Linked DNA regions of Homo sapiens. The protein of the gene in region 2 purifies or fractionates together with the protein of the main gene of each other region. This does not show direct contact. Each region holds a gene or a part of one and is shown on either strand. Other genes may lie near its edges.

Region 1 (3,425 bases), about 56 Mb from region 2:
GCCGAGTCCTTCTCTGGAGAACAAGCCTGTCCCTCCTGCTGACCTGGGGTGGGGCGGCTTGTTCGTGGCCCAAATGGGACCTGGAGCTTCAGCTCCAAGGTGCCAACCTCAGAATTCAGGTCCACCCAGGTCAGCAGATTCCAGCGCCCTGAAGAGCCGGCCCTGGAGGGCTTCCTATTATAGGCCTCAGGGATGGGCCCCCGGGGGCCGGGCTGCAAGAGGACGGTGACGGAGCAGCTGGCACCTGCTGGGGTCACCGGCCTGTGGTTGCGGTAGGCGCTGAGCCACGGAGGTGTGGGCCGTGGTAGGCTCAGGGCCCCGTCCTCCCGCCACCTGCAGGTACTTCGACTCCGTGGACATCTGTAAGGTGCACTCGGACTGGCAGGAGGCGCGGGTGCAGGGCTGCTTTCCCAGCTCGGCCAGCGCGCCCGTGGGGGTAACAGCGCTCACGGTGCTGGAGCGGGCCTCGCTGGAGTTCGCGCTCTTCCAGGAGGGCAGCAGGTGGGTGCTGCGGGGCCCCATCGGGCTGGGCTGGGCTAGGCTGGCGGCCGTGACCACGCGTGACCCTGGCCCGTGGTGTCTGGCGCAGGCGCTCGGACGCCGTGGACAGCCACCTGCTGGACCTGTGCATCCTGGTGTTCCGGGCCACGTTCGGCAGCGGCGGCCACCTCAGCCTGGGCCGCCTCCTGGCCCACAGTAAGCGCGCGGTCAAGAAGTTCGTCAGCTGCGACGTCATGCTGGAGCCTGGCGAGTACGCTGTGGTGTGCTGCGCCTTCAACCACTGGGGGCCGCCCCTGCCGGGCACCCCTGCCCCCCAGGGTACGTGGCCCCTACCCCAGGCTCATGCCCCAGGCCCACGGGGAGGGCTGCGGTTCACACGCCCGTCCTTGTAGCCTCCAGCCCCTCGGCAGGGGTCCCGAGAGCCTCCCCAGAGCCGCCGGGCCACGTGCTGGCTGTGTACAGCTCGAGGCTGGTCATGGTGGAGCCCGTGGAAGCCCAGCCGACCACGCTGGCCGACGCCATCATCCTGCTCACCGAGAGCCGCGGAGAGCGGCACGAGGTGGGTGGGGGTCCCGGGGGAGGGTGGCGTGGGGCAGGGGGAGTATGCCCCAGCACCTCCCCTGCCCCACAACTGCCATTCCTGTGCCCAGGGCCGTGAGGGCATGACCTGCTACTACCTGACACACGGTTGGGCGGGGCTCATCGTGGTGGTGGAGAACCGACACCCCAAGGCCTACCTGCACGTGCAGTGTGACTGCACCGACAGCTTCAACGTGGTGTCCACACGCGGCAGCCTGCGTACCCAGGATAGCGTGCCACCCCTGCACAGGTGCGCCCCCGCCCCTGCCCCCCCACCCCTGCACAGGTGCCCCCTCCCCTACCCCGCTGCACCCACACCCAACTCGTGCCCCCCCACCCCTGCACAGGTGCCCCCTCCCCTACCCCGCTGCACCCACACCCAACCCATGCCCCCCCCACCCCTGCAGAGGTGTGCTCATACCCCTGCCCCCACCCCTGTACGGGTGTTTGTCACCCCACTCCTGCTCCTGCCCCTGTACAGGTGGGCACAGCCCTGCCCCCATCCCCACCCTGCCCTCCACAGGTCCTCACCGGTCCCCTCCCCCAGGCAGGTCCTGGTGATCTTGTCCCAGCTAGAGGGCAACGCCGGCTTCTCTATCACCCACCGCCTGGCACATCGCAAGGCAGCCCAGGCCTTCCTCAGTGACTGGACAGCCTCCAAGGGGACCCACAGCCCCCCACTCACGCCAGAGGTCGCCGGTCTGCATGGGCCCCGACCGCTGTGACCACCATGCCTGGGGCAGGGGCTGTGCACAGACGGACCCCCCACCCCCACACGCACTTTATGAGGGAGACCCCGACAGAGGACGCTTGAGCCAGAATCTCAGGACCCCGCCCAGGGAGCTGCCAGCCCAGGGCTCAGCTTCCCATGGGCCCCCCGCCCCCCTCCTTCCCCTCCCTGAACCCCACAGTCCGCCTGGCCAGGCCTCCTGGCCGCCACGCAGAATACCTCGAACCAGGCGGGCTGTGAACCAGCCCCGCTCACCTGCCAGCCCCAACACCCGACGGGGGCCGAGGCCAGGCTGCCCCTCCCTGTGGGCTCAGGGTCTCCTGCGGGCTAGGCAGCCAGGAGCTCTGTCCGCAAAACCAAATCTGGGTGTCAGAGGCCAAGACCCTGGGGTGGGATCAGGGACCACCCCTCACGGGGCATAAGGTCAGTTTTCCCCCAGAGCCCGGGTCCCTGTCCCCCACAGGGCAGGCGGGGTCCCTGGAGCCCTGGTGTGGAGCGGCGAGTCCCGGGGCGGTGCCTGTCTCAGAAGAAGGGGCCCTTGGCCAGCCCCCCAGCGACACTATGCAAATCCTGGAGTGCCCGCCAGGATCGAAGCCATGACTGGGTGCAGGCGGGCGCCAGGCCCGCTGTGGGTGGGCACCAGTTCTCAGCACCGCTCACTGCTGCCGGGCACACTGGGACCAGCAGGCTCCTCAGCCAACCCTGTCCCTCGGCCCGGCCCTGCCAGAGAGGGACCCCAGCACATCGTGGGCACGGGCAGGGCTCAGCCGCTCCCACCTCCCCACAGAAGCCCAGGAGTGTGTGGACGTCTGAGCCCAGCTTTCTGCGTGCCCTCCTGGCCCCTCACTCCCGGCAGCGGGCCGGCCTCGCCCCCACTCCCCCTCCTACCCCGGCAGGGGCTTCCGGGGCCTTTTCACCTGGAGAAACATTCCCACTCCCCTTTGGCCTCCCTGTACTCTGAGCTGTGAATATTTTTAACCCTGTAAATACGGCCAGCTCTTGTGACACAGAGACTATTTTATCAATTGTCAGTCCCGTTCCTTTACCATAGGATTCTCCACAGTGGCTTCCGACTCAGGCTCCAATGGACCAAATAAAAGCGTTTTGTTTTGTAATCACGCCTCCTCCTCCTGCTGTTGCCCCGCGCAGGGCCCTGTGGAAGGGCGGGGAGGTTGCAGGTCTGAGGGGTAGGCCCTGCCCAGGCATCCCGGGCAGGCGGACGGGTGGGGGCCCCTGGAGATGGCCGTGGTGGGGTGACTCACAAGCTTGTAAGGGGCAGCCGGCCCTGCCAAATGGACGCAGCCAGGAAGGACGGAGTGACTGGGCGGGGGCAGGGGTCAGACCCTGCGGCCGCAGCCCCAGGGCCGGGAAGGACTGGGCAGACGGGACAGCAGCGCATGCAGCTTCTTCCAGCGAGGCATCCGCACGGGGGGCTCTGTCTGAACCCATCAGTCACCCGGCAGGAGCAGATGGAGTGAGGGGGCGCGTGGGGAGAAAAGTTTCCTGTCCCCTCCCAGCCTCGTCCCAGGGTGGCCTCTGCCCCCACACGGGTGCTGCTGAGCAAAGCGCCCGCTCGGAGGCTCTGCTGTCTCCCTGGACGGAGTTGGGGGCTGGG
Region 2 (3,223 bases):
GGGTGGTTTCCATTTAGACCGAGGCCGGTTCAGAACTTCCCAAATGATGGTCCTCCTCCTGACGTTGTAAATCAGGACCCCAACAATAACTTACAGGTATGGAGCCTCCCACGAAGCCCAGGCGAGCTTGACGTGATATGCCAGGCTCTCCAATCCTCAACCTTTAGATTGCCAGCTTGCGGTTTACCATTTTATTGGGCTAAATATTTCATGATTTGTTCACATTTCTTCTTAGAGCAGCAGCTATTTTTAAAACGTCGAATGTGCCATCACATTCTATCACATATTTTTGACGTGGCAATTTGCATTTTGGCTTAAGTAAATAACATTTTTTTAAACCCACTATTTTGAGCGTTCAGTGGTCTGTAACAGTGTGTTATACCATAAGAACTGGTATGAAGTGGTTAACTACTAGTTTAATAATAGTTGAAGCCTGGGCGTGGTGGCTCACGCCTGTAATCCCAGCGCTTTGGGAGGCTGAGGCAGGTAGATCACCTGAGGTCAGGAGTTTAAGACCAGCCTGGCCAACATGGTGACACCCCGTCTCTACTAAAATTACAAAAATTAGTTGGGCGTGCCTGTATTCTCAGCTGCTAGGGAGGCTGAGGCGGAAGGATGGCTTGACCTTGGGAGGTGGAGGTTGCAGTAAGCCAAGATCACACCACTGCACTCCAGCCTGGGTGACAGAGCGAGACTCTGTCTCAAAAATAATAATAATAGTTGCAGATCTAGTTGTTTCATTTGATATTTGCTGCCAGGAGCAGTCAAAACTATGACAACATCAACACAGTTGTGCTGTGGAAGCCTGAGAAACAGCCCTATCCAGCCTAGGGCATCATTCCCTGGGGTCCTGGCTGCCTGCTGCTGTGCCTATGGGGCAGGGGGCAGGGATTTACCCTGCCCTTTCCTAACATTATTTGGTGTTCATCATAGCCCTAATTGTTTTCTCATTGTTTCATTACCTCATTGTTTCATTACCTGTAGGAAGGCACTGATCCTGAAACTGAAGACCCCAACCACCTCCCTCCAGACAGGGATGTACTAGATGGCGAGCAGACCAGCCCCTCCTTTATGAGCACAGCATGGCTTGTCTTCAAGACTTTCTTTGCCTCTCTTCTTCCAGAAGGCCCCCCAGCCATCGCAAACTGATGGTGTTTGTGCTGTAGCTGTTGGAGGCTTTGACAGGAATGGACTGGATCACCTGACTCCAGCTAGATTGCCTCTCCTGGACATGGCAATGATGAGTTTTTAAAAAACAGTGTGGATGATGATATGCTTTTGTGAGCAAGCAAAAGCAGAAACGTGAAGCCGTGATACAAATTGGTGAACAAAAAATGCCCAAGGCTTCTCATGTCTTTATTCTGAAGAGCTTTAATATATACTCTATGTAGTTTAATAAGCACTGTACGTAGAAGGCCTTAGGTGTTGCATGTCTATGCTTGAGGAACTTTTCCAAATGTGTGTGTCTGCATGTGTGTTTGTACATAGAAGTCATAGATGCAGAAGTGGTTCTGCTGGTACGATTTGATTCCTGTTGGAATGTTTAAATTACACTAAGTGTACTACTTTATATAATCAATGAAATTGCTAGACATGTTTTAGCAGGACTTTTCTAGGAAAGACTTATGTATAATTGCTTTTTAAAATGCAGTGCTTTACTTTAAACTAAGGGGAACTTTGCGGAGGTGAAAACCTTTGCTGGGTTTTCTGTTCAATAAAGTTTTACTATGAATGACCCTGGCAGAGACTCCTGTCATCCTAGCAGTTTACTCTGCGTTTGTTGTATCTAGACAGTCAACAACTGAGTTGTCGGTGTTTAACCTGAATGCTTGTTTTTCAGAAGAGGACTGTTTGTGCCGGTAAGAATGATCAGGTAAGGCCATGAAAGTTTTTGTTGGCGTTTTTGTTTTTGAGATGGGGTCTTGCTTTGTTCCTTGGGCCAGAGTACATTGGCTACTCACAAGTGGGCTGGTAGCTGGCTACAGCCCCAGACTCCTGGCTTAAGCCACCTCCTGCCTCAGCCACCCTGGCAGCTGGGACTACAGGCATGCGCCATCACACTTAGCTTGAAAGTTTTAATTTACTAAGAATATACCTGTGTTTCCCCCCATTTCCTGATTTAAACAGTACTGGCTTATATAGGAACCCATCAAAGTTAAATTCCCCAAATTTAAATTTAGTAAATTTAGTGGTTTCACCTTGGCAAATCTGCAATAGTTTCACCAGCTCAAATTTCATGCTTTTGTAAGCTGAGCTTATGTTTGTGATTTTAATCCTTTAAGTACTACTGTGGTAACTAATCATTTTTTTGTTTTTTTTGGTGGTGTTTTTGTTTTTGTTTTGAGATGGAGTCTCACTCTGTTGCCCAGGCTGGAGTGCCGTGGCGCGATCTCGGCTCACTGCAACCTCTACCTCCTGAGTTCAAGCGATTCTCCTGCCTCAGCCTCCCGAATAGCTGGGATTACAGGTGCCCACCACAATGTCTGGCTAATTTTTTGTATTTTTAGTAGAGACGAGGTTTCACCCATGTTGGCCAGGCTGGTCTCAAACCCCTGACCTCAGGTGATCTGCCCGCCTCGGCCTCCCAAAGTGCTGGGATTACAGATGTGAGCCACCGCACCCAGCCAGGGACTAATCTTTAAAGCAAAGTTTTATATATTTTTACGTGAGTAATGTTATGTGTAGGTGTTCTATTTGGCAAAATAAATCAGCCTTTTCTATCATGATTGTGGTCATTTAAATTAATCCTCATCGGAAACATTGTTTACCTAAGATAAACATTCACTAAACAACTCATAGCAAGACGCTGGGTAGGTACAAAGATGTCTTATGTGTGGTTATGCTTTCAAAGCCAACTGAAACCCTTTTGTAAGGAGTTAAATAGCAAAAAGTTTCAAATAACTGTGTGCCTCTAGAACAGAACTATCAGAAGGCAATGAATATTCACAAATTGTGAAGAGATAGTTTGCTTCAAGGAAGAAATGACTTGTAACTAGAGTAGGTATGAAATGATGGGGGAAAAATGATGAGGTATGAAATGACTCACCTTCTCTCCAGCTCAAGGTAAGAAGGGTGGCAGCAGGAGTAAAAGCTCAGCCACAGGACGTGCTCTTCCTGCCAAACAGCTGGATTCTGCACATGCTTGGGAATGAGGTCCTGCTGGTTTAGGAAAACAAACATTAAGAATTCCCAAAGTCTTGGGTGGAAAAGCCTGTTGCTTTTC

The links. Proteins that work in one complex are often made in the same cells at the same time.
Region 1: the proteins of HERPUD1 (region 2) and CAPN15 purify together in Homo sapiens (affinity purification with mass spectrometry; 3 studies listed by BioGRID and IntAct, with this or other methods). This does not show direct contact.

The regions. Positions count from the first base shown.
Region 1 is NC_000016.10:551,712-555,136, forward strand, and holds the end of CAPN15 (calpain-15), read left to right. Parts: intron 1-339; coding exon 340-501; intron 502-589; coding exon 590-819; intron 820-893; coding exon 894-1,060; intron 1,061-1,151; coding exon 1,152-1,330; intron 1,331-1,603; coding exon of another isoform or gene 1,604-1,627; coding exon 1,628-1,805; 3' UTR 1,806-2,925; downstream 2,926-3,425.
Region 2 is NC_000016.10:56,942,142-56,945,364, forward strand, and holds the end of HERPUD1 (homocysteine-responsive endoplasmic reticulum-resident ubiquitin-like domain member 1 protein), read left to right. Parts: coding exon 1-96; intron 97-984; coding exon 985-1,149; coding exon of another isoform or gene 1,150-1,252; 3' UTR 1,253-2,723; downstream 2,724-3,223. UniProt on the Homo sapiens protein: Component of the endoplasmic reticulum quality control (ERQC) system also called ER-associated degradation (ERAD) involved in ubiquitin-dependent degradation of misfolded endoplasmic reticulum proteins.